Linked DNA regions of Homo sapiens: region 1 is linked to region 2. Evidence: fine-mapped expression QTL. A gene starts in region 2. The other region holds a variant in brackets. All regions are shown on one strand. Distances are between the middles of the regions. Region 1 has its middle 5.5 kb from the start of KCNQ2. Region 2 holds the start of EEF1A2 (eukaryotic translation elongation factor 1 alpha 2).

Region 1 (2,891 bases), 21 kb before region 2:
CGTCTCAAAAAAAAAACAAAACAGGCCGGGTACAGTGGCTCATGCCTGTAATCCCAGAACTTTGGGAGGCCGAGGCAGGTGGAACACCTGAGGTCGAGAGTTCGGGACCAGCCTGACCAACATGGAGAAACCCCGTCTCTACTAAAAATACAAAATTAGCCGGGCAGGGTGGCGCTCGCCTGTAATCCCAGCTACTCGGGAGGCTGGGAAAGGAGACTCACTTGAACCCGGGAGGTGGAGTTTACAGTGAACCGAGATTGCATGATTGCACTCCAGCCTGGGCAATGGTGCGAGACTCCATCTTAACAACAAAAAACAACAACAAAAAAAACAAACGAACAAAAACCCCAGGAAACCAAGCATGGGTAGTGACTTGAGAGGCATATGAGCTTCCTCTGGCCGCCCTCCTGTGTGGGGCCGTCAGCAGCGGGATCGGGGAGGCGGGGACTGCCACTGTGAGTTTGTGCAAGACGGCTACATGGTGCTGGTGGCCCCCGCGGGTTGTGGCCCCTGCTAGAACAGGCCAGATTTTATGCTCTTTTGACGCTGTGCTGTCATGGGTGGGATCTGTGCCCAGGTGCTCAGCTTCACCTGCGTTCTGAGGGCCTCGGCACCAGTGACAATAGCCCCTGCGGACACTGGAAAGCAGGGCCTCCCAGGCCACCACCCCGTGCCTCCCAGTGGAAATGGAGGGAGCTGCTTCCCCGTCACTGCGCCTTCAGAAAAACAGACGACCCCACAGAGGCCTGGAGGAACAAGATTTAATCTGGGGAAATGAGGAGATGAGGAGAGACAGGTTCTCAGTCATCTCACCTGGGCCCGTGCCTCCCGGTGGAAACGGAGGGAGCTGCTTCCCCGTCACTGCACCTTCAGAAAAACAGACGACCCCACAGAGGCCTGGAGGAGGAACAACATTTAATTTGGGGAAATGAGATGAGGAGAGACAGGTTCTCAGTCATCTCACCTGGGCCAGAGCTGCTGCGGGTTTAACCCTGTAATTTGGGCGACAGGAAGTGCCTCCCCAGACAGGGAGGCCCAGCCCCCCCAAAGGAATTTTACATTATTAGGAGGAGGAAAGGCTGTATTTATCCGCTTGCGGGGGAGCAGGGGAGTGAGGAAAAGATTTAAGATATGAAAGCATTGATTTTTTTTAACATCTTACACTAAAGTCAATAAAAATTTAATTTACAGTTTTTTCTAAAGGACCAAGGCTCTCAATAAGCTTCCCTAGCCCCTGGCAAGCCGGCTAATTGCATGAGGGAGTTGACTTGTACTTCCCAGCCACCAATAATACCGTCAATTGAGGAGCCC[G/A]TGGTCAGCTGTGACGGCTGGGGAGCTACGGTGGCTCCGGAGGCATCCGGAAAGGGCAGAAATCCACCTGTAGCTCTGGGACCTCGAGGGAACTCTCTGCTTGATGCTGTGCCGTGGCATCCCCAAACCCCATATGTTGTCATCTCTGGTCCACAGGTGTCACAGGTGGCCTCCCACACGCCCCCTCCTATGCCTTCAGGCAAATGGAGAAGCTGTGGCAATCGTCCCCGTTCTGTGGCAGATATATCGTGAGGAACGCAGGCGCCACGCTCACTCGTGGGAGAGACCAGGCCCCACCGTGGATCTACACATCCAGACTCCCTGGCACCTCGACGCTACCCAAATGCTTTCCTCATCAAGGCCTCCTCGCTCCTGAGACCTGGCCCTGCCACACGCTCCAAGACCACCGACCCCTCTGCCCCCGTCCTCCCTTCCTGGGCACACGGCCACCCCGACATCCCTGAGCAGGCAAGGAGCTCTTGCATTTGCTGTCTCCTCTGCTCACCAGGATGGCAGACACTGCTTCTTCTCAGGGAGGCCCTGGCGCGGGGTCCCCTCCCCACCTTCTCTGGAGCTGGTCCTCATCCCGATGGGAAACTGTTTTGCCTGGCGCTGCTGCCCCACTGCACAGAGCGCACAAGGTGTGGGGGGAGGGGTGGGCACAGACACTCACAGCCCCACCTAGCCCAAGGAAGGTGCATGTCAACCTGTCAGATGACAGATGGCCACTTTGACCTGGGGCTGGACGTCGCTGGAGCCCCCAGCCAGATGTGGCCTCAGTCACAGGCCTGGGGCTTGTGTGGCTCAGGGCTGCCGGGGAGACCCCAAGAGGACATGGGCAGCTGGAGCTCAGGACTAGCGGAGCGGCCAGACGTCCTGCCCATGCAGGCTGCATCTGTGCCCTGGCTGCCCACCCACCAACGTCCTGCCCACGCTCACCAGGGCCTTGCTTGGCCAGATGTCCAGTAGGCTTTGGGCGGGGCCATCCAGCCTTGGCAAGGCCCATGGACTGTCACAGCCCTCCCCACCCCACATCCAGGACAAGGTCATCTAGCGCCACACCAGGTGGATGGTTCAGAAAGGCTGGGTTCTCCAAGCTGCACACCAGAGGCTGCACAGAGCTGAAGTCCGGCGAGTCCCAAGGCTCCCAGGGCGGCCCGCTGCCCCACACCCTCCGGCAAACACGAAGGCGCCACCCTCGGCACCCAGCAGCATCTGCCTCAGCCCCTGCAGAGGGCGGCGCTGGTGTGGGCTGCAGAGAGTATGGCCCGCAGGCAGCCGCCATGGGCCTGCCCGAGCTGAGTGGCTTTCAGCAGACCAGGCGGCCACTCAGGCCTGCGTGGACTGGATGTGTCCCCAGAATCCACATGCTGAAACCCTCACTCCAGTGTGATGGTGTTAGGAGAGGGGGCCTTTGGGGGTGACTGGGTCAGGAGGGTGGAGCCCTCGGAAGAGGACCAGCACCCTCAGGGGAAGAGACACGGGCGCTGGGTTCCCTTCTCTGCTTCGTGCCATGTGGGGACATGGGAAGGCATCGTCTGCAAGCCAGGAAGCCGGCCCTCACAGAACCGAGTCTGCCC
Region 2 (2,891 bases):
GAGGCTGCCCCACCAGACCCTCTGAGGCCTGAGTGCCCCACAGCGGGGGTCCCTCCTGCCCTGGAGGAGGTCACCTGAGCCCCATGCCCTGGGGCTGGGAGATGCCAAGCCTGGCCACCACGGGAGTTGGGGGTTCCTTCTCAGGGGGCCAAGACCATAGCCTGGGGAGCTCACCTCAGCCGCCTCCTTCTCGAACTTCTCAATGGTCCTTTTGTCAATACCTCCGCATTTGTAGATGAGGTGGCCCGTGGTGGTGGACTTTCCGGAGTCCACGTGGCCGATGACCACGATGTTGATGTGGGTCTTCTCCTTGCCCATTTTGCTGGGAGTGTGAGGGGCTGGCGGGACCCGGGGTGCTCTGGCTCAGGGCGAGGGGGGCTGCAGTGATTCTGTGGGGCCAGTGGTGGTGGGGAGACCGGTGATGGGGAGCCCCAGGGGGAGACACCAGCAGAGACTGTCCTGGCACAGGCTGGACAGGCATCCCTGCCCACAAACCAAGCCCCCATGTTTGGTGGGGAGGGAAGGGCCCCCACCCACAGCTGGGCCTGGCCAGGGCAAGCAGAGGCTGTGCACTGCCCCCACCCCACACTTGAGCCCAAACAGCCCCATCTGCTGTAAATAACTGGGCGTTGGAGCCCGCGGGCTGCTCCTTGGGAAGGGGTTAGCCACCATTTGGAGAGACCACGCAGCGCCAGGCTGGGTACGTCCGTGACCAGCAGAGCCGGGTGATGAGTCACCTGCCCAGCGCTCCAGGGCCCTGTCCTGCACGCGCACTCCCCTCCCCGGCGGCAGGGCCAGGGACACGGCGCCCCACCCCCACCCGCTGCCACCGGGGAGAGATGGCCACTGCTCCCCACTCCCCTCCTCAGGCAGGGACGGCGCCATCTTCCCCTCATCCCTGCCCGGCAGGCTGGGCCAGAGCCCCGACGGAGATGCGCTGCCCAGATTAGGAACCCAGAATAGCTCTAGGCACCCCCCTCCCGGACTCTCACAGGGACAGACAGCGGCCGGGAGGTGGGGGTCCCTGTTCCAGCCTGAGGAAGGAGGACCCGGCCCTGCCGAGCCCAGCAAGTGCCAGGTGGAGATGCCCTCGGCCCCGTGGGGGTATAGGGGGCACCCTCCCTCCCCCCCTCCCTGTGACTCAGGACCCTGGGTCACAGCCCTGTCCCATCACAGAGGTCAGTGGAGAAACCCACGCTGCTCCTCGCGGACAGGTGGCTGGGGGAGGGAAAGAGGACAGAAGCCACCCTGGGGTGGGAACACGGGTGGGGGTGGGGAGGCCAGGGCCCCCAGATCTCACCACCTCCCTCAGCGTCCTCTGGCCCAGCGCCCCGAAGCCCGACCCCCATCAGCCCCCGGCCCGCAGGGTCCCCGCGGCCCCAAGGTCACGGCTACGGGGCGATCGCCGCCCAGGACCCGGCCCCGCCGCCCCGCGCCGCCCCCCACCCCGGGCCCAGCCCGGCCGACGCGGGGACCCCCGGAAGCCGGACTCCGGGCGCGCGCGGGGGCGGGTGCGGGGCCCGGCCACCCTCTGCCCCCCAGGACCGGCCCCGGGGGTCCCTCTTCGGAAGACGGGGGCGGGGGCGGAGGCCCGGGGGCCGAGCGTCCTTACCCGGAGCCGAGGTCTCAGCCAGAGGGACTGGCGGCGCCGGCGCCGGCGGTTTTATCTCCGGGAGGGGGTCCACCTATTGACGGTGGCGGCGCAGTGCACCGCGCCCTGCAGCACGCCAATGCGGAACCGCGCGGGAGGGGGCGGGGCGCGGACGCGCGCGGGCGGGCGCCACGGGGACGCGAGGCGATGCGGGAGGCGCGGGCTGCAAAGACGGACGCGGGAGGCGGGGGAGAAACGCGCCGCGGGCGGGGGCGGGGCGGGGGGCAGGGCAGGGAGGCGGCGGGAGGGAGGGACCGGGACGGAGACGGCGCGGGGAGAGCGCGGCGGGCCCGGGAGACGGGGCGAGAGCCGGCTCAGGGCAGGAACACGCTTGAGCCGCGAAAAGCGGTCCCCGGGGACAGGGCAGACGCCGAGGACCGGAGCCGGCAGGCGGGGGAGGGGAGCAGGTGGGCTGCAGCCTGGGAGACGAGCCTGGGTCTACCGGCCCCTCCCCGGCCCTGCTCATGGGGGACGCCCCAGAACCAACGAAGCCCGGCTCTGAGGGGCTCTCCCTAATGAGGCCCGGGGGTGCAGGCCTCAGGGTGGAAATCTGCTGGTTTCCAGTCCCTGTCCTCACGTGCCTGCCCTCCTGGGCGCACCATGACAGGCCCCGAGGATCCAGCGCAGAACCACCCTCCCCCTGAGAGGCTGGTCTCCCACGGTGCAGGGAACGCCGGAAGCCCGCTCCCAGACCCACTGACATCTTCCAGGGACCCTCCCCTCCGGGTGCGCCGACCTCCGGCTGCTGCTGGGAAACAGCGCCAGCCAAGGGCGAGTCAGATCCAGACAGACCCAGGCCCCCCCGCCCAGCGCCCCACCCCGCTGCACCTCAGCGCCTTGTAGCTGATGCTCATATGGGGTCAGGATGCCAAGCCAAAGACCGGGCCACGCTCTGTAGGAAGTGGGGAGTCCCTGAGGTCCTGGCACACGCGGGTAATGACCAACGTGGGTTGTGAGGAAGGGGATGTGGCAGCCATGTGTTGTGTGAAGACCAAGGTTAGGGGCTTTCTCCAGACCCCAAGATCCTGTCGTCTCACCCAGGTATTCAGGTCTTCCCTCCCACGCTGCCCCCCCACCCCCACGCACTCGGATCTTCCTGCCAGCGGGGTCTCGGGAGGTGTGTGCTGAGTGGGGGCAGAGCCCTGGCACCTGTCCTCTCAGCCCTGAGTTCCCACTGGGTGTTGACATGGAGGCCCCGGGTCGGGCCCAGCAGCTGCGACTGGGCAAATCCATGGGGATC

What was found.
Region 1: its variant is fine-mapped to the expression of EEF1A2 in esophagus muscle (GTEx, PIP 0.95).

The regions. Positions count from the first base shown.
Region 1 is chr20:63,476,741-63,479,631 of GRCh38, forward strand. No RefSeq gene overlaps it. Among named protein-coding and RNA genes, the nearest start is that of KCNQ2, 5.5 kb to the left of the region's middle. RefSeq lists enhancers at 1,245-2,057, 2,058-2,869. The variant G/A (reference allele first, on the strand shown) is at 1,312.
Region 2 is chr20:63,497,446-63,500,336 of GRCh38, forward strand. EEF1A2 (eukaryotic translation elongation factor 1 alpha 2) reads right to left here and starts at 1,638. Exons shown (of 8, transcript NM_001958.5): 1 at 1,613-1,638; 2 at 175-389. The coding sequence starts at 318. It overlaps LOC124904955 (a long non-coding RNA gene), which reads left to right and starts at 837. Exons shown (of 2, transcript XR_007067719.1): 1 at 837-1,178. RefSeq lists enhancers at 1-21, 647-1,442, 1,703-2,272.